4 linked regions of the Homo sapiens genome follow. The protein of the gene in region 2 purifies or fractionates together with the protein of the main gene of each other region. This does not show direct contact. Each region holds a gene or a part of one and is shown on either strand. Other genes may lie near its edges.

Region 1 (8,057 bases), on a different chromosome or scaffold from region 2:
CCCCTGGGCTCAAGTGATCCTCTCGCCTCTGCATCCTGAGTAGCTAGGAATAGAGGCTTGCACTGCTGTACCTGGCTAATTTTTATTTTTATTTTTGTAGAAACAAGGTCTCGCTATGTTGTCCAGGCTGGTCTGATACAGACGCAATTTTTTTTTTTTTTTTTTGAGATGCAGTCTCACTCCGTTGCCAGGCTGGAGTGCAGTGGCGCAATCTTTGCTCACTACAACCTCCACCTCCTGCGTTCAAGCGATTCTTCTGCCTCAGCCTCATGGCAATTTTTAAAAAATGGAGTATTTTCAGTCTGCGGTTGGTTGAACCCACAGATGTGGAACCCACAAATACGGAGGATCAACTGTATAGCAAAAAGGAGTTAAAAAAATGTTAACAGCCAGCCGCAGTAGCTCATGACTGTAATCCCAACACTATGGGAGGCCAAAGCAGAAGGACTGCTTGACCCCAGGAGTCCAAGTCAGCCTGGGCAACAAAAAGTGAGACTCCGTCTCTACAAAACAATAAAAAATTTGCCAGGCATGGTGGCACGTGCCTGTGGTCCCAGCTACATGGGAGGCTGAGGCAGGAGGATCACTGGAGCCCAGGAGGTTGAGGCTTCAGTGAGCCATGTTTGCATCACTGCACTCCAGCTTGGGCAACACAGCGAGACCCTGTCTCAAAAAAAAAAAGAAAGAAATTTATGTCAATAGATTGTCTGAAACTATGCACAAAGAGACTATATAGGAAGGACAGAACCAAAGTGTGTGAGTGGAAGTGAATGAAAAGTATGGTAATTACAATGGCAATGCATTTGGTGACCCCAGGAGATCCCAAGTTCCTGTAATGGGCCTCTCCTCAATACCTTCTTTACTAACCAGGTTTTACAACTCAATAAGAAGCCTTCACTGAAGACATTTATTAACGCGAGGCAGTAACAGTTCTTTGTACTTGCCATCATTATAAAGAGAATTCTGGATAACCAAAATGATCACAGGATTACTTATAAGACACAGCAAATAAGCACACTGAGTTTAACAGGTGCCCTCACCTTTTGACTTGAACAACTTACTTTAGGTCACATATTACTGCATATACTCTTCCCAATTTGTCCTGGCTATAACCCTGGAAGTTGAATTTATTGTTCCTGTCCAAGTACTCAGGTAAAACTTCTAGCAGAGTTTCAGTAATGACAGAGATAACATTCTGCTCTTCAATAAGATGTCGAGCCTGCGGAATATTTCAAGAATATTTTCTTTAGCATTAACTCATTGTGGTATGGACTTAATTTATTCATTCATTTGGTTAGTCAGTATGTCATTTTTAATAAATGTTTGTTATTGAATGTTAAACACAGTCCTTAGTTTCACTGAATAGCAACTACTAAGAAGTTATTTTCTAAAAGAAAAAATTCCCTACTCCTCAGTAACTAGACAACACCTATCTGGATACTCCAAGCCCATTAGACAGGTTATCTAGATAAATGTTTATCATCAGTAATGTGGTGGCTCATGCCTGTAATCCCAGGACTTTGGGAGGCCGAGGCAGGCGGATCACCTGAACTCAGGAGTTCGAGACTATCCTGGTCAACATGGCAAAACCCCATCTCCACAAAAAATACAAAAATTAGCCAGGTGTGGTGGCAATGCCTGTAATCTCAGTTATTCAGGAGGCTGAGGCAGGAGAATCGCTTGAACCAGGAGGCGGAGGTTGCAGTGAGCCGAGATCGTGCTACTACACCCCAGCCTGAGTGACAGAGAGAGACTTCATCTCAAAAAAAAAAATCACACAATGAGCAAGTATAACAAAGATATACTTCATGACTTCTAGCACACTACGATCTATTCTGAAATCTCCTCCTTACCCCAATCTAAACTCTCCTCTCCATCCTTTTGAAAAAGTAAAGTAGAAACAATTAACCAAGTTTGGATAACTATCTAATTCCAGACAAGAAAAGAAGTAGGGCTGGGCGCGGTGGCTCACACTTGTAATCCCAGCACTTTGGGAGGCTAAGGCTGGCAGATCACCTGAGGTCAGGAGTTTGAGACCAGCCTGGCCAACATGGTGAAACCCCGTCTCTACTAAAAATACAAAAATCAACCAGGCGTGGTGGTGCCTGCCCGTAGTCCCAGCTACTTGGGTGGCTGAGGCATGAGAATCGCTTGAACCCGGGAGGCGGAGGCTGCAGTGAGCCCAGGTCGTCCCATTGCACTCCAGCCAGGGCAACCCAGCCAAGACTCTGTCTCAAGAAACAAAAAACAAAGAAAAGAAGTGGTATACAAAGGAAGCAGAATCTTCCACTCTCCTCCCAGGCCTATGCAGCACCCTCTCTCCCAAATGCTTGACAGGCACACCCTCCCACTTCTTAGTTTTATCTTATTCTATCTGCCTACAAACAATAACTTAAAAATAAAATATTTTTGGTATTGAAAAGGCAGTGTTCATAAGTTACTCTAGAAAGTAAGAAACCAGCTCTAGGTGTCATCTGCATTGACGAGGACATCTGAACCAAGGCAGCGCCTAGTTAACTAGTCCTTGGGTAGCACTAAAGTATTCACATAGCCCAACTTAGTGATTCTAACATTGTTCTAATTTGATTCAACATTAAGTGGAATTCTTACAAAGCAAAACAAGTTTTACTTAGAAAGACTGAAAAGGAATAATCAATACATACCAGAGTAGGAACAGTAAACATCTGAACTGAAAGTGCAGTTATAGAGATACTTCTGTCATGATCATCACTGATATATTCTTTCTGCAGTTGTTTATAATACTGAAATATATAAGTAGAGAATCAATTATAAATCACTACTAAAGACCTTTAAAAAATCCCAATTTTAATAACTGCTGCAGGTTTGTTTCTATCTATAAAATGTCAAGTAATATAATTCCTATTTATTAAGGCAAGATATTATGATCAGCAAAAATATCTTAGAAGGAGAATAACAAACAACAAATCAAGTAAAAATTCACCTACTCAATTTAGCAGAGATAGAAGTGGAAACTATTAAAATATACACATAGGTTAAAAAACAAACAAACAAACAAACAAAAAACAGAGGACTGCAATGGTATAGTTTATCCTTTCTCCAAACAGAATCTGGGGCAATCTTTAGCAGCTTCCACTCTAATGGTATTGGGCAGGGAATATATTCAAAGTATTTAACAACTGATATGACCCAGAAAAACCAACCAATCAGATTGAATCCAGCCTTAAACAGAATGGATGCTGGCTGCAAATAACTTCTTTCCCATACTGGTACATAACAGCTGCAAAACAACCCTGATATACTGGGAGAACAAAAATAGGAATATACTCAGTCACATAATAGGCATCTATTATGTGTAAGGCACAAAGTTGGATACTTAACCTACTTTAAGTTAGATACTTTACCCTCCAGAATTCCTACAAAGTTTAAGGGGTAACCATGGTGTACAAAAAAAATCATCTAAGTAGGGAGATTAGCTTTTGTATAAGAAAACAAAATTTCATTTCAGATCACACATATGGTCCAATATTCTATATCTGAAGAGTTTTAGAAGAGAACATCTTGAGTTGCCATCACTGCTGAAGGATAAGACATACAACAAATGTCTTAGTTACTTTTAAGTCTGCATATAAAATCCAGGTAATGCAGGTATCTTATCCCACAGTGTCATTTGCCTACAACAATCATTATTTCTTTCTCTGCTTCCAATTCCATCTTGGGTCCTATATCTATCTTAAGTCTTACAGAATTGACTGCAACTCAAAATCAGAGGAAATCAACAAGTATGACTGGCAAGTATGATTGCCTTATATAAGGCAAAATAAAAGATTCAAAGGAGTCCTTGATCTGTATACCCTTGCAATCTAATTTGGTAGATAGACAAAAAGATACAGTAAGGTAAGAGATACACGATAGATTAATAAAACATTAAAAAGCTGTAAATTTTAGCCTTATGCTTTAGCTTCCAAAAACTAAGTAGAACTCTTGGCCACCTAATTCCTGCCCCCCACTTTAGCATACACATCTGTTCTTCTTTCCTGCTATACTTTTCAATTAGTCACTTCTATTCTTATTGTAATTTTACTAACAGGCAAATAAATGATTAGGAAGACTGAATGCATATGTGAATGTGATAACCTCCCTTTGCTCTGGGTCAGTGGGTCATTTTCCACCTATCTCTTCTCTAAGAATGCTGTTTCTATACTAGCAAATAACATTTGTGAAAATATTTATATAACGTATGAGAACGAACTTTTTTTTTTTTTTTGAGATGGGAGTCTCACTCTGTTGCCCAGACTAGAGGGCAGTGGCGCGATCTTGGCTCACTGCAACCTCTGCCTCTCAGGTTCAAGTGATTTTCCTGCCTCAGCCTCCTGAGTAGCTGGGACTACAGGCACCTGCCACCATGCCTGGCTAATTTTTGTATTTGTAGTAGAGACGGGGTTTCACCGTGTTGGCCAGGCTGGTCTCGAGCTCCTGACTTCAAATGATCCACCCACCTCAGCCTCCCAAAGTGCTGGGATTACAGGCGTGAGCCAACCCGCAGGGCCAAGAACAAACTTTTGACAAAGAAATAAATCATAACATTTAATTTTTGATTCATAATTATCCCTGTTTCTATTAATTCATTTATAAAAACTGCCTATTTCTATTTATTGATATCTAATTTATAAATAATTACCTTCACAAATTCCATAGCAAAGAGTTTTTTGTATTCCATCTCCATAAAAAAACTGCTGAAGATCAATTCATGAAGGATCTTACGGGCACCTATAGATTATTTTGGGGAGGGTGGGGGAATGAGGAGAATCACCAAGGCAAAAACCAAAAACATTCTGGCTATTAGAGTGGCAGAATATTATAAAATTACTTCACATGCAAACAGACCTCAAATAGTATTTATTGTATTAATATTTAATAACTGGAATTTAAAATACACACATATATTGCCTTTTCCCTCTTTTTCTGCACCCCTCCCACCACTTCATCTTACACTTCAATTTACTCTCTCCCAACCTTTTCATTCTTTTTCTATTTCACTGTACTTTTCCTTCTCCATGCTTTTAGCCTTTTACGTTTTGTTCTTCATTTAGATTTTTACAATGAAAATAGCATCTTTTTCGCTACTCGATAATGGCACTACTACCTGAATATATAGATACATGTATAGACACATACATATATACTCTTTTTGACTGGCTCTCACTAAATGAAAAGACTCTATAATTAAAAGACAACATCCCTGGGTTTTAACACCAAAGAATACATACTGACTGGTTAAACTTTATATTCACATGTAGTATCTTATCAATCAAGATTACAGATTTAATAACTAATTTAATAAACAAAAGATATTACAGCTCCACTTTAAGGTCATAATCTTCCTTTGCTTCCTGACAAACAGCATAAGCAAATGTCTACTTACCTTTATAAAGCTTTGCATCCCAAAGCATTAACCTGCTTATGAGACAGGGATTCTCCGAGTCAGGTTCTTCTCTAAGGCATGCTTGGCAAAAGATCTGCCTAAAGTCACCTACAAACAAAAGAGGTCACACAGTTACACAACTTGTATTCTTTTTCTTTTTAAATAGAGATGAGTCTCACTCTGTTGCCCAGGTTGGTCTTGAACTCCTGGGCTCAAGCGATCCTTCCACCTCAGCCTCTCACAGTGCTGGCATTACAGACATGAGCCCCTGTACTCAGCCATAATTTTTATTCTTATAACATTTCTCCTAAAAGTACATTTCCTATAACATGTGAAAAGAATAATATTAATCCTCCCACATTTGAGGCAAAGAATAATTCTGTCAACATCAAAGACTCAACAGCCAATAAAAAGATATTATTTGATACTATGCACTTGAAATAATATCCTAAGATATTATACATTTGAAATGCAACCCTGAAAATTAATCAAAGTGTATAAACCAAAAAAAAAAAAAAAAGAAAAACTTTATTTCATACTCAATGACATTTTAAAATTTGTGGCTATAAAACACATAGTATTTTATCAGAAACAAGAAAAACAGGAGGTATGCTTACTTGAATAGCTCATAATTTTGTTCATCCAGGAACCAAGACGCAAAGCAAATTTCTGATGAGCCATAATCTCTGAGTGTAATACTTCTACATGAAGTGGATGTTGAGAGACATTTTCTGAATGACTCTACAAATGAAGGGAACGAACCAAAAAAATAGCATTTAAAATTTGCTTTTAGTTAAGGGATTTATACTTCAAATGAAGAAATCACATAACCCTGCCAGTTCCAAATCTCTGCATCTAGGTGCCCCAAACCACTTCAACGACATCATCACTCAAATTATTCTACTTGGGCTCTTGTAATGTACATTCATCTTTAACTTCTCTTTTTCCCCCTAATTCAGAAAGTTACCTTTATATCTTCCTTTGCTTCCTGGCAAGCAGCATAAGCTCCCGCTTTAACAGCCCGACGACCCTAATTATAGACAAAAGTGAGAATTAGGTAGTGAAATGATAACCACAATCAATAAGCAATATGTAGCCCAAAGACTTAATGAGCTCTTAACTGAGCTCTAATCGCGTGTTGACTAAAAGTTGTAAGATACCGGAACAATATCTGAAAGACAGATGCAAATGTTTAACACCTTTATGAAGTATGAAAACTTTAATACCTCTAGGACAGACAGTCTATAGTTTAAGATGCTGAGTTTCTTGCCTGGCAGGAATGGCAGTTCTTTAGTTACTGCAGTGTCCTCTCTACTTATATGAAACAATGACTCAGGCTTTCTAAACTTCTGCTATGTATTTAAAATATTTTTCATGAATGAATTCACAGCTCTTCAACATGTATCCTATGATATACTTGTGGCCCATTAACGAGCGGGAAGTATAGCTGGACTACTGATTCCACCAGTCCTGGAGGCGGTCATGCAAGGTCTATGTAGGATTTCCTTGTAGCTCATTCTTTTACCCACCTGTAAAAATTCATCATTTTCTATATGTGCCATGTGAAAAAAGTCAGGAAGCACTGTCTTCCTCATTTAACCTTTACAATGACCCTATGAAGAAGGTATACCACATTTTACAGATGATAAAAAGAAAAATAAGACAGAAGTTAATTTGTCCCCCAATCAGAAAGTTAGCAAGTGACAGATTCAGAGATCCATGACAAGCATTTCATCTCCAGAGTCTGTACTTTTAACCATCCTGTAATATTCCCTCTTTAGCTGCTTAGTACATAAGCATAAGAACTATCCAAATATATTTGGACTACTAATTACACCAGTAAGGTTGCCATTACAGAAAAAAAAAAAAAAAGCACAAAAAGCCAGGCCATAAGAGATTGTTAAAAGAACAGATTGGACAAGAATAGTTACATAAACTCGAGCTCAATCAGCTTGTATGTATGTGATGCTGGCAATTAACCTAAAGCAGTGGATCTCAACAAACAGGGGGAGGAAAACCACCTCACATCCATATTTTTTGGCTGCTATCAAAAAATAAGAAGGGAGTTAGCTGCTGATCATGGTGGATGGGAGACAGGACTAGATTGGAGCTCCGAGCTCTGACTCAGATGGACAGAGCAGCACACAGAGGCTCACATCATGAATTTTAGCTCCAGAACGACTGTAAGAACAAACCAGGAATCCAGAGAGGACCTACAGACCTTCTGAAGCAAGGGGACTGCTCCTGCAGGACCTGGGAGACACCCCAAATACTCAGTCCCAATACTGGCTATCTTTCCAGAGGAAAAGAAGTCATTATACGAAAAAAGATACTTGCACACGCATGTTTATGGCAGTTACAATTTGCAATTGCAAAATCACGGCACCAACTGAAATGCCCATCAGAGTGGATAAAGAAACTGTGATAGATATAGATACACACACACACATATACACATACACATACATACACACACATATGTATATATACACACACACATATATGTATATATACACATACACAGGCTGGAATACTACTCAGCCATAAAAAGGAATGAATTAACGGTATTTGCAGCAACCTGGGTGAGATTGGAGACTATTATTCTAAGTGAAGTAACTTAGGAATGGAAAAACAAACATTATATGTTCTCACT
Region 2 (8,026 bases):
GGTGCGATCTCGGCTCACTGCAAGCTCCGCCTCCCAGGTTCACCCCGTTCTCCTGCCTCAGCCTCCCGAGTAGCTGGGACTACAGGCGCCCGCCACCACGCCCGGCTAATTTTTTGTATTTTTTTTAGTAGAGACAGGGTTTCACTGTGTTAGCCAGGATGGTCTCGATCTCCTGACCTCGTGATCCGCCCGCCTAGGCCTCCCAAAGTGCTGGGATTACAGGCGTGAGCCACCGCGCCTGGCCCGACAGTGCTAATATATTAATACTAACCAGGATGGCTAATGCCATAATTATCAGCACTGGAAGATGAAGCAGCGCTGGAATTTCCTTCATGAGTGCTTTAATAAATTCCCCAGTTCCTTTTCCAATATGCTTCAATGGCTCCGTTACAAATGTGGTGAATGTAACTGCAAGTGCCTAAAACGAGAGAAAAGCAACTTAATTTTCTCCTCACAGGACTAAGGTACAGAATGCATCAAAATTCATTGAGTACTGATGCTGAAAGTATGTTACATAAATTAAAATGCTGTTGTGCCATTTTTAATGTGAAAATCACTGTGCAAAAGTATTTTTTCTTGGACAAACGCTTATTAGCAAAATGACTCAAACACTAAAGTTCTTTAAAATACAAGGGATTTCTGACTGACTTTAAGTAATTTTTACAAAATATATGCTATACCTTTGTTGGTGGGACCAACCAAATAGGGTTGACTAGTAAGAGCTCATAGTATTTTTGGCATGGGTCATCCTTATAGGTCCATGAACTTCTAAACCATTCTGTTTAGAGAAACAGACAAAACACTGATCATTTCTTTTAATGTTGCATTTCATTCCCAAACAAGACATTACTTTGGTTTTGACCCTCCCTGACCACCCACCAATGAGTTTTAAATTATCTTAAGTTTTAAGTAGACTCCCTGTAATGCTGATTTTTAAATTTTTCATCTTATGTCCAAAATCATGTTTTAAAAATCCATTCAAATTATACATGTTTTATGCAGATAAAAAATTGTATTTTATAAAAATGTCTAAAAGGTAAACACTTTAAAAGCAATGCTTCACAAACACAAATGAGTACAGGTAAAATGGGAAGTCGAAATAAGACTGGTGGATTGTATCAAAGTCAATATCCTGGCTCTGATATTGTACTATTAAAGCTGTGCAAGATGTCACCACTGGAGGAAAATGGGGAAAGGGTACACGGGCTCTCTCTGTAGTATTTCTTACTGTGTGAATCCACAATTACCTCAGTAAATTTTTAATTTAAAAAGTCAGTTCTTTATGGAGTTTACAAAATAAAGTGGAATATTAGTTCTAATTTTTCCAAATCAGGCTTATATACGTTGGGAAACTAGCCTGAGCTAGAGGAGGCATTTCACTGTCCACTGAAGCCAGGAAGGAAGGCTGAATTGGTTTAGTTCCCACAACTTTTTAAGAAACATTTATTTTGGATTCCATCTGCAGAATTCCGTGTCAGTCATGGACTTGCATTTATAAAATGCCTTGGAACATTATTAAACCATCCCCATTGCTAGATACATACAACCAAAGGTAGTGAACATTCATGAGAATGTTTATAAAATGTGAAAGAATAAAAAAACTAATTTTTCCCGTAGTTAAAAAAAAGTAAAGCTACAACATAAAATTTCACAAGTCAATATAAGGCCATTAAATTTAAGATGGATATTAATTCATATATACATTCATTCACTTGTTTAATAAACTTCTATTGAGAATATGCCAGACCCTGTGCAAAGAACGAGATGAACAAAAGCGAGCATAGGATCCTTCACACAGTCTTATGAAGGAAGACAGATAATATCAGAGCCAACATATATACAACTTCTATTCCTTCCCTGTGACTTTAGATGAGCATAAAAAGTCACTGGTTTTAAACCTAAAATGCTTCTTGCATGTTCTTCTGATATTAAAGATTCAGTCATGGAAAGCCTCCTGTTATTTTATCATTCTCTTTGTTCTATGTTCTTTCATTCTCAGAATTTCTATTCAAAATAAGGACAAGTGCACAAACACCTTACCCCAGATACTTCCAGTCCAGTCCATCTTTTTGGCACACACATTGTTTAATGGCTCCATCTTGGCGACTTCAGCCTGATGCTGTGCAAAAGCTAGCTGCCCAACACCAAAAGGGAACCAGGAGAGGCCGTTACCTATGAAGGTTAGGCCTACACATCCAAAAGACCTTCATTCAAAGAGTGTCTTTACCATTCATCCAAACCAGACTGTTATAAATTTTTAATTAAAAAAAAACATATTATTATTACTATTTTTTCTCTTTTTTTCCTGAGACGGAGTCTCGCCCTGTCACCCACGCTGGTGTGCGGTGGCACAATCTCGGCTCACTGCAACCACCACCTCCCGGGTTCAAGCGATTCTCCTGCCTCAGCTTCCCGAGTAGCTGGGATTAAAGGTGCCCGCTACCACGCCCAGCTAATTTTTGTATTTTTAGTAGAGACGGGGTTTCATCATGTTGGCCAGGCTGGTCTTGAACTCCTGACCTCAAGTGATCCGCCCGCCTCAGCCTCCCAAAGTGCTAGGATTATAGGAAAACATATTATTTGTAAAGAGTAGCTATTTCCAGTTCATGGAAAAGTACAGCCTTAATGCAACAAGTAAGCATAAAGTACTAACTACAATTGCCTTCTCTGTAAGTAATTATAATGAAAAAGGGAAACTTTACTAAAAATATTGTTTTTAAAAATTAGTTCAGCCAGGCGTGATAGCACGGGCCTGTAGTCCCAGATAGGAGGCTGAGGCAAGAGAATCGCTTGAACCCGGGAGGTGGAGGTTGCATTGAGCCGAGATTTCACTACTGCACTCCAGCCTGGGGGACAGAGTGAGACTGTCTCAAAAACAACAGCAACAACAACAACAATTAGTTCTAGCCATACAAATTAAATGACTACTTCTTATTTTCTTTTATAGTTGATGATATCCTATTTTGCACTGGATAATTTCCAGTACAATGACCAATATACAATCATTAAGGTGACAATACTCAAGCAACTTTCCTTCCACACAGAATCTGTGTTTAATTTGTAAATAATTAGTTCTAAATACTATAATACTTACAGCAAAAGGTTAAGGAAATGTCACAATGCTTTAACCAGATGAAATCATTGAAAATACTTGGCTACTTGACTCACTCTGCTAGAAAGATCTAAAATTTTCTTTCAATGATTATTATTTATGCTATGTTGATGGGAACAGTAGTGGTCCTTTCCAATTTCTATATACAGTATGATCCCAACTTTGAAAGATAATTAAAATCTAGAAAAATCTAGAAAGAAATACCTTAAACTACTGACAGATTTTCTCTAGGTGATAAAATTATAGGTTATTTTAAAAATTAATTTCCTTGTATCTGCCTTTTCTAAATTCTCTGCCATGAATATACCACTTATTCAAAAAATAACCTAATTTTTAAAAAATAATATTTTGGTATCATTTCTAGCAAAGACATAGAATGACATACTCTAAATTACCTACATGATAATTTTTAAATGTATCCACATAGCTTTATTCTTTTTTTTTTCTTCCTTGTTTTTGAGACAGACCTCACTCTGTGGTCCAGGCTGGAGTGCAGCAGCGCAATCTTGGCTCACTGCAACCTCTCAGGTTCAAGCAATTCTCCTGCCTCAGCCTGCTGAGTAGCTGGGACTACAGGTGCACGTCACCAGGCCCAGCTAATTTTTGTATTTTTAGTAGAGACAGGGTTTCACCATGTTGGCCAGGCTAGTCTTGACCTCCTGACCAAGTGATCTGCCCACCTCAGCCTCCCAAAATGCTGGGATTACAGGCATGAGCCACCACACCCAACCCACCTGGCTTTATTCTGACTTAGATGCCCAAATGTTAACATTAACTGGGTTATGAAAATTAGGACTGAACTTTTTTACCCACTAACTGGTCAAGGAATCAAAAAACTGTCAGCTAAGAAGTGTCCATTTAATTCCTCTCCAGCGTGGGCCACCTCTAATCACTGCCTCCAACCCACATCCAAGGCAAGATTGCTCTCAATGGATTAGAGTCTTCTTTCATTGTGAATAAATGTGTTAAAATTGTAAAACCCTCCATCCATATAATACCTTATATAAATACATCCAATTCCATCCCAAACTGAACAGAAAGCTGATGATTAAAACACGTCTCAACTGAGTGTACCAACGTACATATGTCCACAGCTCAGTAGCCACTAAAACCACGATGCAGAGCAGACAAAGAAGTACCTTAAAACAGAGAGAAGCAGAAATCAGCCACCAAAAACACTTAAGACAGCTAAAAAGAACTGGACTCAAAAGCACAAAATCATTTCTACAATTTTGTGGCTTGTTCATCAATACGGTATAAGTGACCTAGTACAGGTTCTTAACGTAATTATGGTGGAGTTTGGAAAGTATTTTAAAAAGGAAACTTAATGACGTTGCCCTTGCCCTCATCCCATCTTACCATTAACACATTATATGGATCCACTCCAAAGGAATCTTCGAATCGCCACTTCCATGTTTCAAAATCATGAAACTTAAAATTAATTAAAATATCACTTAGTGCATCATCCAAGGCACCTGGTTTCCAGTCTTCTCCATTGAGAAACTTCTGTATTTCTAACAAAGTTTCTCTTTTAAGGATAATCTCAGCATCATAATGCATATCGCCTTTGTTTTCATCAGGCTAAATTAAATTTACCAAAAAACAAACAATAGAAAGAGAATTTTATTACTACTTGGTGAACCATTTTAAGACAAAAGCCAATTTGGAACTAAATATTAGTTTGCAGTATTTCATATGTATAAGAATAATAGCCTGGGCAAGGTAGCTCACACCTATAATCCTAGTGCTTTGACAGGCCAAGGTGGGAGGATAGCTTGAAGCCAGGACTTCAAGACCAGCCTGGGCAACAAAGCGAGACCCCATCTCTACAAAAAATTCTAACCATTAGCTGTGTGCAGTGGTGTGCACCTGGCTCCTGCCTACTCAGCAGGCTGAGGCAGAAGAATTGTCTGTGCCCCGGATTCGAGGCTGCAGTAAGCTATGAGCATACCACTGCACTCCAGCATGGGAGACAGAGTAAGACCCTGTCTCTAAAAAAAAAAAATAATAATAATATCCACCTGTCTTCACAGGCCAACATGAAAACCAAAGATAATATACATGAAAAACATTTAAAAATTCTAGAACTCTATGTAAAAAAGATACTGTAAATTTCACTAAAATACAGTTGATTCTTGCTATTCGCAGTAGTTATCGTCTTTTTTTTTTTTTAGATGGAGTCTCACTCTGTCGCCCAGGCTGGAGTGCAGTGACGCAATCTCTGCTCACTGCAAGCTCCACCTCCTGGGTTCACGCCATTCTCCTGCCTCAGCCTCCCATGTAGCTGGGACTACAGGTGCCCGCCACTACGCCTGGCTAATTTTTTCTATTTTTAGTAGAGACGGGGTTTCACCGCATTAGCCAGGATGGTCTCGATCTCCTGACCTCATGATCCGCCCGCCATGGCCTCCCAAAGTGCTGGGATTACAGGCGTGAGCCACTGCACCCGGCCTCACAGTAGTTATCTTCTATAAAGTCACCTCAAACACCAATTAGCAAGTACTGAACCATTACTCCTATAATAAATACAGGGTTTGGTTCGTGCAAACCTGTCATAACATTTTTATCAATTGATCAATATATAACCTTGTTTTATGTGTGTTTCTGTACATTCCTGTTTAAGGACACCTTATTTAAAATACATATTGTTCATTCACTAACACTGAACACATGGACAACTGTCCTATACCTTACGCTTGACTGAAGCCTATCTAATACACACCTTTTCCTTTTCTCTGTAAGTACATCGTGGCCTTCTTGCACTTAGAAACACTAGACCTCAGCTCAGCACTACATCAGAGGGCCGTTTTAAACAACGAAATGATGCTGTTTAATGATTGGTCTCAAAATAAAAATAAAAAAAATCACCCCTCTCCCCTCAAAAAAGCACGAAAAAATATACCACTAAATAGACCACAAAAAAAGACACTTGTTTGCAGTACGAGAGCTGAAACAAGAAAACAGTTTTGATTGCCTTGTTCCATCTCAGCTGGGAATGCCTGCAACAGGCAACCCAAATTTTTTACCACTCTTCACTGTGTCCCAGAGTAACCACAGAACACCTCGATTATTGACTTTGGGGTTACACAGACTTAATGAGGTCAATTCATAAATACGGAATCTGTGAAGAATGAGGATCAACTGTGCATCTTCATTTTATGATTCACTGCATGACTTTTCATTTCCTGACAGTTTTCAGATAGCCTAAAATCTGTATTAGTGCAAACAAGAAAAACAAGAAGGATCTCAAAGAGCAACAAAATAATGGGTTTCCATAAATTACATATTTATAACTACCTTTATTAGTGTGAGTTCAGCTTAGCAAAATCACTAAACAAATTTTGCATTAATTAGCCAGTTGATACAAATAAAATTCCTTTTTCTTTTATAAACAGTAAATACAAGGTGGGACATGGTGGCTCACACCTGTAATCCCAGCACTTTGGGAGGCCGAGGCGGTCAGATCACTTGAGGTCAGGAGTTTGAGACCAGCCTGGCTAACATGGTGAAATCCTGTCTCTACTGAAAACACAAAAATATTAGCCAGACGTGGCCGGGCGCGGTGGCTCATGCCTATAATCCCAGCACTTTGGGAGGCATGAGGCAGGCGGATCACGAGGTCAGGAGATCAAGACCATCCTGGCTAACACGGTGAAACCCTGTCTCTACTGAAAATACAAAAAATTAGCCGGGCATGGTGGCGGGTGCCTGTAGTCCCAGCTACTCAGGAGGCTGAGGCAGGAGAATGGTGTAAACCTGGGAGGCGGAGCTTGCAGTGAGCGGAGATTGCGCCACTGCACTCCAGCCTGGGTGACAGAGCAAGACTCTGTCTCAAAAAAAAAAAAAAATCAGAAACTAAATATTTTCCAGCATTTCCATCTTAAGTATTTTTGGTTCCATCTGTTTCCTTATCTAGGTTCTGTTCCACCCTGTACGTAGCTGTAAGGCTCAAATTACAGAGTGTACGTATGAGAACGCATCTGCTTCTACATTTCCAGAATAAGGTGGCGTTATTCATCTAACACTCCTTTTTCTTTTGGTCACTTCTTACTGTACCAGGAAGATGGAGTATATGGCAAGTTTTGCCAGCCTACACTGTGCTGATGCAAGGGCCTTTCATTTTCAGGGATCTGCCTGTAACCACTTCTGGCAGGTGGGGCTAATGGCCAGATCAAGACCAAAGGCTGGTCTCTGACTCTCTAAGTCAATTCTGGTGGCACACACAATAGGAAAAAAAAAGTCTATGAGCTTTTAAATGAGCTTTCTAAATGTTATAAGTTATTAAATTTATGTTTTCTTGATGTTTTCACTTTGGTAAGTGAATTAAAACTAAATTAATGCATTAAGTCTGGGAAGTTTTCACTTCCCAAAGTGAAAACAGTGACTTCTTAAAAATAGAAATTTTGGCCAGGTGCGGTGGCTCACACCTGTAATCCCAGCACTTTGGGAGGCCAAGGCAAGCGGATCACCTGAGGTCAGGAGTTTAAGACCAGCTTGGCCAATATGGCAAAACCCCATCTCTACTAAAAATACAAAAATTAGCCAGGCATGGTGGCAGGTGCCTGTAATCCAGCTACTCGGGAGGCTGAGTCAGGGAGAATTGCTGGAACCCGGGAGGCAGAGGTTGTAGTGAGCCAAGATTGCACGACGGTACTCCGGCCTGGACAACAGAGCGAGACTCTGTCTCAAAAAAAAAAGGAAATTTTAACAATAATTATGAACAATATGTCTATAAAGTAGCACTCACCACAGTAAACAACAAGGAGAAAAACTACAGAAAACACATTTTTCTTTTTCTCAGCATATACTGAGAGAAAACAAGGAGTAGGATCAGAACAGAATTATCACCCCACCTCCTCACCTCCATTAACTGGTGGAGCAGTGCACAGAGCTGAGTAAGTAAATCCATACAAA
Region 3 (8,260 bases), on a different chromosome or scaffold from region 2:
TCTTAGCCTCCCAAGTAGCTGGGATTACAGACGCCTGCCACCATGCCCGGCTAATTTTTGTATTTATAGTAGAGTCGGGGTTTCACCATGTTGGCCAGCCTGGTCTCAAACTCCTGACCTCAGGTGAGCCACCGTGCTTCGCCCTTACACAGTTTTTGAATGAACTACTGGAAAACTGAAGGCTCGCTAATGACACATTCACTTCATCTCTAGCATGTAGTTACTGAGCAGTCATTTGAGCTCTAAATCCCACGCACTGGGGAATTAAGTAGGAAAAAATGATAACTAAAATTGTTAATATCTTTCTAAAAGCTACTTACTAGGGATTATACATTCTACTTTTTTAATTATCAGGGTTCCTAGTGCAACACCATGCTGATGGCAAATATTAAGTAAATGGTAAATGCTTATGGAATGAATAAGGAGCATTACTAGACCAGTTCAGTGTACCACAATGAACTGGAAAAGCAGCAAGCAGGACTCGACAGACATGAAAACAAAAGAATCTGGTTAACTCAGCCCCCAGTGAGATGCTACTCACTTGCCACAGTTCTGCCCCCTCAAACACTTTCTGCCTGAGTATTGGATGTCAGTAGTTGTACCAACACTGGCAACTATCATCCAGAAATGGTAAGAGAATGAATATGAAGTCATTTCAGAAAGTTAAAATACACAAGGGCTGAGTTTCTTCTGATGAGGTCATACTCACAGGAATGTTGCCAGCAGTAGCCCCAGCTCCAAATCTGGCACCTGCATCATACCCTCCTTCCACCAGCACTGTGGAGCCAGGTGGATAGATGGGACCGACTGGATAATAAGCCATGGGGATTGTGGAACCTAAAGGCCCAACAGCCACAGACTGGGCCATGGGAAGATACAGAGAGGCTCCAGGAAATGCGGCTGACATGGTGGGGACTGTGGCAGCCCCTGGGTGCACAAAGCTCGGACGATAGAGCTAGAAGAGGCAGAAGAGAAGGCAAAATGTTACTTTATGACATTCCTATTTGAGATCTCTTTAATGAGCTAATTCTTAATTCTCCTTATGCAGGTTATACTTTTTGTAAGATTATACAAGTTGCCTTTCCACTGGCCTTCAATATTCTCCTGGATCACTTTCTGCTATAGCTAATGTTGGGCTCACAGAACGCAAATTCATCTTCTGCACCTTAGCCTGTGCCAAATAACACAAAATCATCAAATAATGCACTTTCAACTCCGACAAAAATTGCCAAATTATATAGTGTTTTAGATTATTCATGTTAGCATTTGTGAAGAGTAAATATGTGAAGTCAGATTTAGCTAAGGACTAAAGGACCACCCTAAGAGTATTCCCAGCTAGTTCAAATCTGGCAAACTGGAAGCACCTCTGAGTAGGCAGGTGGAGCATCGGTATAGGGTGGAGCCTGAGGAAGATGCAAGGTCTGAGGGTATACTGGATTCCCAGGAGGCTGCACAGGGTAGGTTGGCTGTGTTGGATATTGACCTGAAAGACAAGAAAAAAATGAAGGTTGCCTACTACACAGAGCTACCAAAATGAGGCAGGTCATATCGGGTAGCTAACTTAGTGGGAGCAAGCAGAAGGGGATTTGCAAATAGTCTGCCCCAGAGGGCCTGATTCCTGGAACTAAGAAAATATGCATTGTCTTTGCACCCTTAAAATGGAAGGTGCTGGATTCTAACGAGACAAGAAAGGCACTGCTCACTGCTCCTACTAACATACCGAAGTAAGGGGTTAAGTCTACCTGGGCCCAAGTTCCCTCCGGAATGCAGGACAGGTCTGGGGTTCTGGCCTGCTGCTGTTCTGGCTTATCAAGGGTGCCTCTGCTCTAGGTAGTCTCCACAGCCTGTCTACAACCAGCCCAGACTTCGTGGGTAACAGCAGTTCTGATTTTCCTTACAGATTACTATTCAAGGTCGACTTCCAAACAAAGGGTGTGAATGATGGAAGTGAACCGTGAGACTGGGAAAAGGGTGCAGGGCTGAGGGGTGAGGAGGAATATCCTCACTGGAAAAGCGGGGGATCAGGTTTGGTTTTTTGTTTGTTCTGAGACGGAGTCTCGCTCTTTTGCCCAGGCTGGAGTGCAGTGGCGCGATCTCGGCTCACTGCAACCTCCGTCTCCTGGGTTCAAGCAATTCTCCTACCCCAGCCTCCCGAGTAGCTGGGATTACAGGCGCCCGCCACCACGCCCAGCTGATTTTTGTATTTTTTAATAGAGACGGGGTTTCACCACGTTGGCCAGGCTGGTCTCGAACTCTTGACCTCAGGTGATCCGCCCGCCTCGACCTCCCAAACTGCTGGGATTACAGGCGTGAGCAACCTCGCTCGGCCTTTTTTTTTTTTTTTTTTCTATTCCTTTTTTACCCCCTCAACCTATTCCTGCGTTATGGGAATCATGTTCCGACAGACACACTGGTACAACCACAGAAAAGGGGAGAAGTTCTGATCCCGTCAGCGAAGGGCGAGGGGGTGCGAAGGGAAGGAAAAGAGACCTCACAGGCCCCGGCCCACGAACCAACTCCAGCAATTCAGTAGTTAAGTTCGGCCCCGCTGGGGGTTCCGGAGCGCGGCGCCCCGCCTCCGCCGGCTCTCCATTGGCCTACGCGAATGCCTGCGCTAGCGCTCTATTTGCTCCTGCGGATGCCCATCATGTCAAGCCCCCCCACCACCCGAGCCCGCAGCTCCAAACTGCGCCACAGAGTTTACGGAGGAAAGGGCCTGGAGGCAGCAAGCTGCCGTAATTTGGGTATGACGAAGGCGTCAGGCGCAGCGCCCTGGACTGCAGCCGGCCAAGGAGCATGGCGCAGCCCACCCCAAACCTGGCGTTTGGTGACCCTGGGCTCCGAATCCGCTCGCTCTGGGCCAGCAGTACTCCCCCCGACGGCCTCTGCCACCCTCGGTCCTTGCCTTTGCTGTTCATGGTGGTTGCGGGTCCGGTTTGTCTCGGCGTCGCGGACGGTTATTTTTTTCGTCCTCTTCCTGTTCGGAGCTACTTCCGTGTCACATGATGGTCCGTCCGCCTAGCGTCACCCGACGCCCGAGTGGCGCTGCCGCCGGAAACTCCGCCCCTGCTCCGGGCCTCCAGTCGGCCGCGGGAGGGTCCGCGCGGTCCCGCCCACTCGCCTTGGCCCCACCCCCTGCTCGTTTCTGTCCTCCCCCCCCCTACCGGTGTCCCTCAGCTGGAGAAAAACCAAATGCAGGTATTGTCTGGAAACAGGATCTTTTCTCTGTTGGACGCTCGGATGCAGAACGATGCAAGCATTCCCCGGAACCTTTTTCCACCTACACGCATTCACTCAAGGTCACCTCACCTTGGCAACCTTCCACGAGGGGCTTAGATTTCTGCAAATTTGTCGCACTGCCTGAAATCGGCTCCCCACACCTTAGTTTATCATGCGTCCCTCCCCACCAAGCCCAACTTAAGCTTCAGCTCTGTTAAAATTTATTTTGCCACTCCAGCTCACATGTATCCTTTCCTGAATGAGACCTGCACTGGAATCTTCGCTGCCCTGTCTTCCCCAGGACAGTCGTTGCCTTTCTCACGTACAGGAAGGGGTTATGTTTTCCGTGCTGTACGCAACACCTGGCACTGAAACTGACATAACTGCACTACCCATGGAGTGTTTGTGGCCCTTTCCTTTTTTTAGCACCTGTTGCAGGTGACCTGTATGGTACCTCTATTTTTCTCTATGTATGGCTTCTCTTTCTAACCTAATTATCCTTAAGGGCAAAGATGGCATCCTTTAGGGCAGCGATTAAGTGTTTTCTTTTCTTTTTCTTTTTTTTTTGAGACGGAGTCTTGCTCGCTTGCCCAGGCTAGAGTGCAGTGGGGCGATCTCACCACAGCCTCCACCTCCCGGGTTCAGGCAATTCTCCTGCCTCAGCTTCCTGAGTAGCTGGGCCTACAGGCGTGCGCCACCATTCCTGGCTAATTTTTGTATTTTTAGTAGAGACGGGGTTTCACTATGTTGGCCAGGCTGGTTTTCTTTCTTTCTAAAAAAAGTTTTAATTTTTTCTTTTCTTTTTTTTTTTTTTTTTTTTTTTGAGATGGAGTCTTGCTCTGTCGCCCAGGCTGGAGTGCAGTGGCATGATCTCGGTTCACTGCAACCTCCGCCTCCTGGGTTCAAGCAATTCTCCTGCCTCAGCCTCCCGAATAGCTGGGATTACAGGTGCCCGCCACCACGACCGGCAAATTTTGTATTTTTTAGTAGAGACGGGGTTTCACCATGTTGGCCAGGCTGGTCTCGAACTCCTGACCTCAGGTGATCCACCTGCCTCGGCCTCCCAAGGTTCTGGGATTACAGGCATAAGCCACTGCGCCGAGCCTTATTTTTATTTATTTATTTATTTATTTATTTATTTATTTATTTATTTATTTATTTTTGAGACAGAGGCTTGGTCTGTCGCCAGGCTGGAGTGCAGTGGCGCAATCTCAGCTCACTGCAACCTCCGCCTCCAGGGTTCTAAGCGATTCTCCTGCCTCAGCCTCCCGACTAGCTGGGATTACAGGCACGTGCTATTCATTTTTTAATACAGAGATGGGGTCTCCCTGTGTTGGCCAGGCTGGTCTTGAATTTCCAGCCTCAAGCGATCTTGCCACCTCCATTGTCCAATGATTAAAGGGTTAACTCTTAGGACCCAGGAACTCTCCTGGGCCTACCTCCTGCTCATGTAAACTGCCCTCAGATTGGTCAGGCCTACTTTACAGGTTGTTGGGTATTTTGCTTGTCACAGTGGGACCTGGGCATTGGGAAAACCAGGGCAGAGCCAAATGAGATTACTAACAAAAATGAAAGAGTTGCAGGCCAGTGCTTTCTCTGGCAGGTGGAATTAAGAAGTAAATGGTGGCTGGGTGCAACAGCTCACACCTGTAATCCCAACACTTTGGGCAGCCTAGGCAGGAGGATCGCTTGAGCCAGGAGTTCAGAACCAGCCTAGGCAGCATAGTGAGACTTCATCTCTACAAAAAAAAGTAGTAGTAATTAGCTACTTTCTTGAACAGGATCAAACTTTGGCATTTTCTTCATTCTCGTAGATTCCCCAATGAGATGAAGATGTTTATTTGGTCATTTATCAAACATTCTTTCTTACATTAATTTAACAAATATTTTTTGAGCACCTATTATGTGCCAGGCCCTGTGACAGGCACTAGGGAAATAATAATGAAGAGACAGGCATAGTCCATACTCTCATGGAATTTATGGTCTACCTAATGGGAGAGACAGAAAAGTGAACACATAATATGATTAGTGCTGACATAAAGACAGCATGGAGTGTGAGGAGAACACATAGGTGAGGCACCTACTCTATTCTGATGTAGTCAGGGAAGGTTTCCTGATGCAAGTGATGTCTGAGATGAAATCTGAAGGGTGAGAGCAGGTTAAGCAAGTGAAGAGGGTTCCTGGAAGAGGGAACTGCTTATGCAAAGGCCTAGAGGTGAGAAGGCTTATAGAGGGGGAGGGCATGAAAGAGTTCAGTGTAGCCAGAGCATACTGGTAAGGGGACTGATAAAAGATGACCCTGAAGATCCGGGTGCGGTGGCTCATGCCTGTAATCCCAGCACTTTGGGAGGCCAAGGCGGGCAAATGACTTGAGGTCAGGAGTTCGAGACCAGCCTGGCCAACATGGGGAAACCTCGTCTCTACTAAAAACACAAAAATTAGCTGGGCATGGTGGTGCGTGCCTGTAATCCCAGCTACTTGGGAGGCTGAGGCAGGAGAATTGCATGAACCTGGGAGGCGGAGGTTGCAGTGAGCCGCGATCGTGCCATTGCACTCCAGCCTGGGTGACAGAGCAAGATTCTGTCTCAAAAAAAAAAAAAAAAAAATTGACGCTGAAGAACTGTGAGCCAGACCTTGCAGGGACGCCTTAGAGCCCATGTAAGATCCCACATGAAGATACTGGATTCTATGTTAAGGGCACTAGTTAGCCACTGAAGAATGTTAAGCAGGAAAGTGATATGATCTTGTTTTTGTTTGATTGATTGATTGATTGGGACAGGGTCTTGCTCTGTCACCCAAGCTGGAGTGCAGTGGTGCAGTCACAGCTCACGGCAACGTTGAACTCCTGGTCTCAGTTCATCCTCTCACCTCAGCCTCCCGAGTAGCTGGGACAGTGGGTGCTTGCCACCATGCCTGGCTAATTTTAAATTTTTTATAGAGACAGAGTCTCACTTTGTTGCCTAGAGTAGTCTAGAACTCCTGGCCTCAAGCAATCCTCCTGCCTCGGCCTCCCAAACTTGGGATTACAGGCGTGATCCACTGCTCCTGGCTTGTGTTTTTCTTTTAGAAAAATGCTTCTGGGCCAGGCACAGTGGCTCATGCCTGCATTCCCAACAATTTGGGAGTCCAAGGCAGGAGGATTCTTTGAGCCCAAGAGTTCAAGACCAGCCTGTGCAACGTGGTGAAACCCCATCTCGGCAAGAAATTTCTAAAAAAGTATCCAGGCATAGAGGCACGCACCTGTGATCCCAGCTACTCGAGGGGTTGAGATAGGAGGACTGCTTGAGCCCGGGAGGTCGAGGCTGCAGTGAGTCGTGGTCACACCACTGTACTCTGCCAGCCTCGGTGATAGAGGCTATCTCAAAAAAATAAAGAAAAGAAAAGGAAAAATCCCTCTGGTTGCTAAAGAATATAGAATAGGTTAAAGAAAGGGCAAGAGTGGACGTATGTCTGAGATACCATTTAGAATCAAATTTAGTCATTTAGGTGTGATGATGGCAGACTGGCCTAGGGAAGAGGCAGTACAGTAGAGAGAAATGGGGGGATTCCAGAAATATCCAGGAAGCAGAAACAACTGGACTAGTTCCAGGACTAATGTCAGGACAAAATTTCTACAAAGTCAAAACTCCATATAGTCAAATGACAAATTGGAAAAATATATTTGTAATTTACATCACAAAGAGCTAATCTTCCTGCATGTAAAGAACTCTTAGACATCAGTAAGAATATGATCAACCATTAGAAAAAAATGGCAAATGACATTTACAGACAGACAGTTCACAGAAAAGGAAAAACAAATGACTCCCTAACACATGAAATGATGTTCAGCCTGGGTCGTAATCAGAAGGCAGATTAAACCCCACCGATATCATTATCAGATTGGCGAAAATCCAAACATTTGCTAACATTATTTGCAGGGCTGTGGATAAGCAGGCATTCTAATTTGTTGGTGATGGGGGTGAAAATTGGTACAAATCCTATAAGGTTAATTTGGCAATATCCATCAAACTTGCAAACATACCATTCCCACTAATGGGAGTGATTCTACAGATATATTTGCACTCACGAGAAACGTATGTATAAGGCTATTCATTGCAGCTTTTCTGTAACAGCAAAAGATTAGAAATAACCCATATTTCTATCAATAGGAAACAGAAAAAATAAATCTTGATACATCCATACAATAAAATACTATGTGGCTGCAACAGAGAATGAGAAAGTACTCCAAGGTGTTCTTTAAATAAAAAAGGGAAAGATTCAAAACCATATACTTAGTGTGATACATTTTATTTATTTTATTTTTTATTTTATTTTGAGACAGAGTTGCACTCTTGTCACGCAGGCTGGAATGCAGTGGCGTGATCTCGGTTCACTGCAACCTCTGCCTCCCAGGTTCAAGTAATTCTTGTGCCTGAGCCTCCCAAGTAGCTGGGATTACAGGTGTGCACCACCATGCCTGGCTAGTTTTTGTATTTCCAGTACAGGCGGGGTTTTGCCATGTTGGCCAGGCTGGTCTCGAACTCCTGGCCTCGAGAGATCCACCCGCCTCGCCCTCCCAAAGTGCTGGGATTACAGGCGTGAGCCACCGCACCTGGCCAATATGATACTTTTTATGTCAAAGAGCAGGGAAACCAAGAATATTCATCAGAATTTGAGTAAAGAAATTCTGGAAGGATACACAAAATACCTATAAAAGTGGTTACATAAGGGGGAGAGGGAGTGGAGGATGTGAGACAAAGGTGGAAGTGACTTTTTACTATATACTTTTTAGACGTTTAAAAATATTTGAACCTATAATCCGAGCACTTTGAGAGGCCAAGGCAGGAGGATCACTTGAGGCCAGGAGTTCGAGACCAGCCTGGGCAACATAATGACACCCCATCTCCACACACACAAAAGTAAATCAATTAGCCTGGTGTGGTGGCACATACCTATAGTCCCAACTACTTGGAAGGCTGAGGTGGGAGGATCACTTGAGTCCAAGAGTTCGAGGCTGCAGTGAAGATAATGGCACCACTGGGCTCCCGCCTGAATGACATAG
Region 4 (8,103 bases), on a different chromosome or scaffold from region 2:
AATAAATGTGATACAGCTTGCTAACTAGCTGAATTAAGATGATTAATAATTCATATTCTTTGCACCGATGTCTCTAATTCACTGAAAAAAGGAAGACTGACATCCTTCAGTGAAATTTGTTAAAAGACTCTTTTAAGGTTATCTTTCTTATGTAAGACAGAAAAGGCTTGAATTTCAATTTACTCTTGTGCCACTTAGCTTTAACTAGGCCAGGTGCTATGGTTAGAATGTGTGAGCTAAGTTCATGTGTTGGAAACTTAATTTCCAATGCAACAGTGTTGGGAGGTGGAGCCTAATAAAATATGATTAGTTTATAAGCACTCTACCTTCATGAATAGATTAATGTCGTTATCTTGGGAGTGGGTTTGTTATTGCCAGAGTAGGCTTGTAAGGAAATCAAGTTCCACTCTCTCTTGCTGTCTTGCCCTTCCACTTTCCACCATGGGATGATGCAGTAAGAAGACCCTCACAAGATGCTGGTGCCTCCATACAGTCATGCACCACAACAACAGATCACATATATGATGGTGGTCCCATAAGATTATTTTTACTGTACCCTTTCTATGTTTAGATACATAAATACTTGACATTGTATTATACTTGCATACAGTATTCATTACAGTAGTACATGCTATACAGGTTTCTAGCCTAGGAGCAACACCTTATTCCACACAGTCTAGGTCTAGTAGGCTATCTGCCACCTCACTGGTCATTCCTTTTCTTGAATGAGCCAAGTTCCCTCCAGCCCAGGACTTCTACCTGTGAGGTTCCCTCTGTCTATAATGCCCTCCACCAACCCACTCACCCACACGTCTATAGACTAGTTGATTTGAGACTTCCCTCAGCTCTCAATCTGACTCTCCTCAACACCCCCAACCCCACCACCCCAGCCTAAATAGTAGGCTGGCTATAGTATCCAGGATTGTGTAAGTAAATTCTATGACGTTCTCACAACCACAAAATTGCCTCATGATGCATTTCTCAGAATGTATTCCTGTATTTAAGCAACACATGATTATGTTGGACTTCCTAGCCTCCAGAACTGTAAGAAATAAATTTCTGTCCTTTATAAATTACCAAGTCTCAGGTATTCTTTTACAGCAGCAGACAACATATGGAGACATCATTTTTTTCTAATCACTTCTTAAAAGAACATATGGAAAATTGAAGAGTGCAACTATTAAGTTCTGATTAAAAAGTGTTTTGGTTTTTTAATTTAGCACTATTCAGGGCAGTGCAATACAGTGTGTATATACACAGATACACATATATACACATAGAAATTCTTCCTATATAAATATTCACTAAATATAAAGCTTGTGTGGTTTTAAAGGAATTAATTGAAGGCATAGAGCATGCAAGGCACTATACCAGGCACTAGAGCACAATACCTAGACACTAGGGGAGACAGACAATTAAGAATTAAATATATTATTAAAAATACTCTAAGTGCTATAAATAAAATTAATGTTGCTATAAGAAAGGGTTATGGGGCACTAACTTAGATGGTGGTAGGGGGTTTAAGAAAAGTCAGACTAGGAGATGAAGGAAGTCTCAAATCAACTAGTCTATGGAGGTATGGTGGGTGGGGTGTTGGAGGGCATCATAGATAGAGGGAACTCCATAGGTAGAATTCCTGAGCTGGAGGAACGTCCCTCATTCAAGTAAAGGAAGACGAGTGAGGTTACAGAGCAAAAGAGGGAGACATTCTTAGAGATGAAGATGGAGAAGTACATAAGGGTCTGCTCACACACATCTGATGTCTCTCCACCTGTATGTACTCTAAGCTCCTTTACAGATCTAAAGGCAGTTTGATCTATAAACCAGCTATTTTACATGCCACTTTTCTATCCAATTGCATAAATCCACTCTTTCCCTTTATATGTCTTTTTCATTTCCCCGCATTTTCTCATTGTTCAAAGCCCTACTATTGTTGTAAACAGGGTGGCATTAAGACAAAGGTTTGCTCTTAGAAAAAGTTCAAGAAGGGAGCCCCCAAACTGTCTGACACGTTTAAGTGTCACTTGTAGTAACCATGTATCTCAATGTGATAAGCCAGAAAAAACAACGACTGCCTGTTCCTGGAACTGGGAAGTGGCCATGCCAAGACTTCCAGGAATAACAGTGCATGAATGAAACCACCTGGGAACCAGAGAATCAGCTTGGAGAAGCAGGAACTTTGTCAAATATTTAAAATAATAAGAGCTAACTTTCACTGAGTACTTTCTGTAGCGCCAGGCACTGCTCTAAGAATTTTACATTAATACTCTGTAGCTCATTTAATAGTTACACAATTTCAGAGATGAGGCAATGGAAAGAACATATATAAGAAGAAAGTGGCTGACAGTCCACAGACGTGAAGCAGTAGAGGCCGAATTTAAAGTCGGGGAGCCTGACTGGAGCTAATGGTCTTAGGAACCGTGCTAGATACCGCCACTATCTTTCCTAAGCTGGTATTGTAGAGGGCCTAGCATAGATGTGGGCTCCGGCGGACTTCATTGAATACTTACTGATAAATGACAGCTTGCAGGCTGTATTAACCATTCCTTCTAATAGCCCCACTACGCTGGCACATGCTCCTGAGCCCAGACTCTACCCAGGATTCAGGGCCGCTCTCTACCTGTAAAGCAGTGTAGCTAAGGGGAAGCTGAGCCCCGCAAGGCGTTTTCAGGCAGGGCACCCCTTGTCATTCGAATGGTTCTGGGGTGAGCCCGGGTGCCGCTGGGCCGCCTGGGGCCCCTTGCCGTGTACCTGCTCCACTTCCAGGGTCCCTTTCAGAGGCCTCTTGCATTTCTGGCCCCAACCTTCACCCCACATCCTCCACCCCCAGAGCAGCAAACACAACCTGCGGGCCCTCGCGCCGGTTCCCCACAAGTTGCCCTCCACACCTGACCCCGGCCCTGGCCCCAGCGCAGGCTCCGCGCAGTTCCCGCGCCCAAGTCCCCAGGAGGCGGCAGAGAAAGCCGCCCGCGCACCTCTGGCTGCCGCTGTTTCCGCTCCCGAGCGAGACAAGGTCCAGAGAGCCGGGGCCAGGCGATGGCTTCCTCTTCTGCGCCTCTAGACTGCCGGGCACAGCTGCTGCGCAACCTTCTCAGAAGTCAGCCGGAAAAGGGTCTGGGAGTAACCTTTGCGCCAACACCCGCGGCTCCTGGTTTCGTTTCCTGAATCTTACGTACACAACACGGTTTCCTTTTCCCGGTTCCCGCGCTGGCGCTCGGGGACCCACGAGACTACTGGAGGGTGAAGGAGCTGGAGGAGGGACTGCGCCCACCCCCTGGTGTGAGGCCCCTCCCCTACCCCCGACTTGCTTTCTTGCTCATTGGAGAGACTCCAGAGACGTTTGTCCGGTGGTTAAGGAGAGGAACTGGGACTCCGACACTAACTGGAACTGGAAAGTCATCAGCTGGGGAGTGGCCTCCCCCGGGAACTTTCTTTACTCTGGCTTTGACCTCCATCCCTCGGAAGCCCGTGGCTTTTCAAGGCGAGGGAGTAGAGGCAGCTTAAGACTACAAATGAGGAGGGGCCAAAATTGTTTTTCTTTATGGTGCCTTTTCTTTCTTGCTGTCTTGCTCTTTCTTTCCTTCTATTAAATTATGTGATATTACTTTTTAATTTTTAAGCAGTTATTTGAATGTTTTCGAGCTCACTTTATTTTTTTATAAATATTGTTCCTTTTTAAACTAAAATAGTTTTTATTCTGTGTATTTAAGTTATTTGTATGACATATCCATCAACTCCTATAATTACACATTTCCCCCCTTGGGGCAAGAGCAGCTATAATCTACTTATTTAGCATAAATCCTGAATACCACTATCATTAACTATAGCCCTCATGTTGTACATTAGGTCTTCCCATTTGTTCATCCTACGTGTTTGTAACTTTGTATACTTTTACCTAAATTTCCCCATTTCTCCTGACCCCACTCCAACCTGGATGACCCTGGATAAACCAGTGGTCCCCAACCTTTTTGGCACCAGGGACCAGTTTCACGGAAGAGGATTTTTCCATGGACCAGGGCCGGGTGGCAGACGGTTTCAGGATGATTCAAGCACATTACGTGTATTGCGCACTTTACTTCTATTATTATTACATTGTAATATATAATAAAATAATTATACAACTCACCATAATGTGGAATCAGTGGGAGCCCTGACCTTGTTTTCCTGCAATTAGAAGGTCCCATCTGGGAACGGTGGGAGACAGTGACACCAGAAGTGTGTTGCTTATGTCCAGTCTACTCCGTAATCTTGTTTTGGTTGCTGTCACTGCAGAAAATCCTGCTTCACAAAGATAGCATGTTGGAAATGGAAGCAGACTCTTCAGTGCTTTTGTGGCAATCTCAGGATATCCCACCTTGAGTTTAATCCAGAACATGGGATTTGAAGCTGTCTCAAACATACTTTTAAGGCCACCATCATTTGTGATCTCAAGCAATTGATCCTCTTCTAGTACGGACAAAATCGATTCACCTGACTTACTCACAAATGGGTCATGGATACATTCATTCCCAGTTCAGGGTTCTTTTGTGGTTGGGTAGTAATGCTCGAACTCTTTTGAAAGCTAAGATAGGTGATCATGCATCAGCTGAGAGAAAGAAGCTGCTGGCTCAGTCTTCTTCAAAATCTCTGCTAATGTTTGAAACATGTCAAAAATCTCAATGTTCATTCGTTGCCCCCATAATTCCAGTTTGGCTTTCAATGCAACCAATTTATCTGCTTCCTTGAACACAGTTGTCCTTCTCTCCTGAAGCGACAAGTTGAGTTCATAGATCGAGTTGAATACATCACACAAGTAAGCAAGTTTTGCAACCCTTTCTGTGTCACTGAAATGTGCCGCCAATGGTGACTGATTTTCTAAAATAAATCTCTGGAGCAGCTCTCATAATTCAAAAATTTCAGCCAGTGATCTACTTTTAGAAAGCCATCTCATTTCTGTGTATAAGAGAAGACATGCATGCCCAGTGTCCATCTCCTCACAGAGCTGCACAAACAGATGTGAGTTAAGAAAATGTACTTTAATGTGGTTGATTATTTTTGTCACATCCTGCAAAACATTGTTAAGTTCAGGTAACATTTTTCAGCTAGCCAGCATTTTTCTGTGGATGACACAGTGCATAGACTCACATTCTGGTCTCTTTGACCAGAGTAGTGAAACCAGAAAGCCATCCAGTCATGGCAGCCACTCCTTCCATGCATATACCTACACAAAATAACCAATTCAGTTTTCTTGATATGTAATCATTCAAAGACAAATAGTTCTTCAGCTGTGGTTTTGATTGGCAACAAAAATTCACATAATATATCCTTGTGCACATCTTCCTGAAAAATATATCACACACAAAAAAGCATTGTTGCTTTGTTGTCAATATCAGTAGACTCATCAACCTGGATTGCATACCAATTGCTAGAGAGGATTAATGGTGACTCATTAATCCTCTCTAACAATTGTACCTCGATATTCTCTGCTATTTCATCAATTCATCTAGTTATGGTGCTAGCCAGAAGAGGAATATGTGCTATTTTTTGAACTGCAGCCTCTCCTAAAAGTTCCCAACAAATGTCCTTAGCAGCAGGCAGGATCAATTCTTCACCAATAGTAAAGGGCTTCTTAGCTTTAGCAATGCAGTTAGCCACTATGAATGATGCTCTCAGTGCAGACACATTTGATGACATGGTGGCCTTCAATAATTGCTTCTATGTGTTCTTTGTGTTCATGGTTTCATGGTTTCTGTTTTTTTTTTAAACAAAACAAAACAAAAAACTCCAAAGGCTTGTCTTTTAATGCAGAGTGCTTGGTCTCCATGTGGCAAAGTAGTTTTGCAGGTTTCATGGCTTCATTGGGCAGTTGGTCACCACATATTATACAAAGCAGGATTGGAGAATGTGAACCACCTGTTGCAATGAACCTGTAATTTAAGTAGGACTCTTGGCATTTTCCTTTAAGTGCAGCTTTCTTTTTGTTAGCAGTCTTAGAGTCTTCTGTTATCTCACCTTTGGGTTTTTCCCCATTTTCAAAGAAGCTGTCCAGTGATGTTTGTTTTTCACTCACTTTGATGTTTTTAACAAAAACTTTTTTTTAACAAAAACCCTTGTTTTTCACAAGGGTTAGCTTGTGGGCTTAGCAAAACTGTGACTAAGACAAGTGCACAGTGTGGAAAAGAGGTGCAGATGGAAGTGGTAAAATAATGGGTGGGCCATGCACAGACTAAAATAAGTGTTGGATTCTGACTTAAAGCCTGCCACCAGATGCAACTGTACAATTGAAGTACATCAATTTTCCACTATAAAGCCTGCCTCCAGACACAGCTTAATTGTCACTTGTCATTTGCCCCTCACTGATAGGGTTTTGATATGAGTCTGCAATCAATGTATTTATTATGGTCTCTGTGCAGTCAAAACTCTCTGCTAATGTTAATCTGTATTTGCCGCTGCTGCCCGATGCTAGCATCACTGCCTGAGCTCCACCTCAGATAATCAGGCATTAGATTCTCCTAAGAAATATGCACCTAGATCCCTCACATGTGCAGGTCCGTGGCCTGGGGCTTGGGGACCCCTGCTATAAACCACTATTGTATATATTTGACCTTTTCTTAATTTCATATAAGTGAGATTGTGCAAAATTTTTCTTTCTGTGTCTGGCTTATTTCATTTAGCATAATGCCTTCCAGGTCCATCCATGTGATAGCACCTGGCAGAATTTCCTTCTTTTATAAGGCTGAGTAATATTCTATTTTGTGTGTATCTGTGTGTGTGTATACACACAACATGGAATATATGTATCTTTATTTATACAGTTGTCTATTGATGGACACCTAGATTATTTCTATTATCTTGGCTATTCTGAATAATGCTGCAATGAACATGGGAGTGCGGCTATCTTCAGGAGACGGTGATTTCATTTGCTTTTGGTATATACCCAGAAGAGGGATTTCTGGGTCATATGGTAGTTCTACTTTTAATTTCTGTAGGAACCTCCGTACTGTTTTCCATAACGGCTGCACCAGCCTACATTCCCACCTACAGTGTACAAGGATTCTCTTTTCTCTACACCCTTGCCGACACTTGTTATCTCTTGTCTTTTTGATAATACCAATCCTAACAGGTATGACGTAGTATCTCATAGTGATTTTGATTTGCATTTTTCTGATGAATAGTGATGCTGGGCACATTTTCATATACCTGTTGGCTATTTTTATGTCATTTTTGAAGAAGTGTCTATTCAAGTCCATTTCCCATTTTTAAATTGGGTTATATGTTTTCTTGCTATTGAGTTGTATAAGTTCTTTATAAATCTTGGAAACTCAACCCTTTTCTGAGAACATGATTTGCAGATATATATTTTTCCAATCTATAGGTTGCCATTTCATTTCGTTGATTGTTTCCTTTGCCATGCAGAAGTTTTTGGTTTGATGTAGAAATAATATTGTTAAAATGTTCATACTACCCAAAGTAATATATAGATTCAATGCAAATTTGTATGAAACCACAAAAGACCTCAAATAGCCAAAGCAATTCTGAGAAAAAAATTGAAGCTGGAGAAATAACACTTCCTAATTAAAAATTATATTACAAATTTATATAAAACAGAATGGCACTGACATAAAAACAGATATGTAGACCAATGGAACAAAATAGCTCAGAAATAAATCCAAACATACACGGTCAACTAATTTTTCACAAGGGCCCCAAGAGAACACAATGAGGAAAGGATGGTCTCTTGAATAAATGGTGCTGGGAAGACTGGATTTTCACATACAAAAGAATGAAATTGAACTGTTGTCTTACACCACACAAACAAATCAAAAACAAAATGGATAAAAGACCTACATGTAAGACCTCAAACCGTTAAACTCCTGGAAGAAAATATAAGAGAAAAGCTCCTTGACATTTACCTTGCCAAAGATTTCTTGACTATCACACCAAAAGCTCAGGCTACAAGAACAAAAATAAATAAATGGGACTATACCAAATGATATTTTAAATATGTTTTGAAATCAAACCAACCAGATTTGTTTAGAATGTTTATTTTTCCAGCCCTGCAGCTGGCATAGAGACATGTAATAAATAAATATTTATTGAACTGAAGGAATAATTATTTTCCTT

Evidence for each region.
Region 1: the proteins of CLCC1 (region 2) and UBR1 purify together in Homo sapiens (affinity purification with mass spectrometry; 3 studies listed by BioGRID and IntAct, with this or other methods). This does not show direct contact.
Region 3: the proteins of CLCC1 (region 2) and DAZAP2 purify together in Homo sapiens (co-immunoprecipitation; 3 studies listed by BioGRID and IntAct, with this or other methods). This does not show direct contact.
Region 4: the proteins of CLCC1 (region 2) and PLSCR1 purify together in Homo sapiens (co-immunoprecipitation; 3 studies listed by BioGRID and IntAct, with this or other methods). This does not show direct contact.

Annotation. Positions count from the first base shown.
Region 1 is NC_000015.10:43,053,681-43,061,737, forward strand, and holds part of UBR1 (E3 ubiquitin-protein ligase UBR1), read right to left. Parts: intron 6,435-8,057; coding exon 6,372-6,434; intron 6,146-6,371; coding exon 6,022-6,145; intron 5,513-6,021; coding exon 5,405-5,512; intron 4,750-5,404; coding exon 4,661-4,749; intron 2,763-4,660; coding exon 2,664-2,762; intron 1,220-2,663; coding exon 1,062-1,219; intron 1-1,061. UniProt on the Homo sapiens protein: E3 ubiquitin-protein ligase which is a component of the N-end rule pathway. Recognizes and binds proteins bearing specific N-terminal residues that are destabilizing according to the N-end rule, leading to their ubiquitination and subsequent degradation.
Region 2 is NC_000001.11:108,939,365-108,947,390, forward strand, and holds part of CLCC1 (chloride channel CLIC-like protein 1 isoform 1 precursor), read right to left. Parts: exon of another isoform or gene 8,022-8,026; coding exon of another isoform or gene 7,974-8,021; intron 4,694-7,973; coding exon 4,472-4,693; intron 4,252-4,471; coding exon 4,111-4,251; intron 2,135-4,110; coding exon 2,041-2,134; intron 779-2,040; coding exon 681-778; intron 419-680; coding exon 272-418; intron 1-271. UniProt on the Homo sapiens protein: Anion-selective channel with Ca(2+)-dependent and voltage-independent gating. Permeable to small monovalent anions with selectivity for bromide > chloride > nitrate > fluoride.
Region 3 is NC_000012.12:51,233,566-51,241,825, reverse strand, and holds the start of DAZAP2 (DAZ-associated protein 2), read right to left. Parts: upstream 3,001-8,260; 5' UTR 2,919-3,000; coding exon 2,906-2,918; intron 1,484-2,905; coding exon 1,365-1,483; intron 956-1,364; coding exon 710-955; intron 1-709. UniProt on the Homo sapiens protein: In unstressed cells, promotes SIAH1-mediated polyubiquitination and degradation of the serine/threonine-protein kinase HIPK2, probably by acting as a loading factor that potentiates complex formation between HIPK2 and ubiquitin ligase SIAH1.
Region 4 is NC_000003.12:146,541,492-146,549,594, forward strand, and holds the start of PLSCR1 (phospholipid scramblase 1), read right to left. Parts: upstream 3,117-8,103; 5' UTR 2,976-3,116; intron 1-2,975. UniProt on the Homo sapiens protein: Catalyzes calcium-induced ATP-independent rapid bidirectional and non-specific movement of phospholipids (lipid scrambling or lipid flip-flop) between the inner and outer leaflet of the plasma membrane resulting in collapse of the phospholipid asymmetry which leads to phosphatidylserine externalization on the cell surface.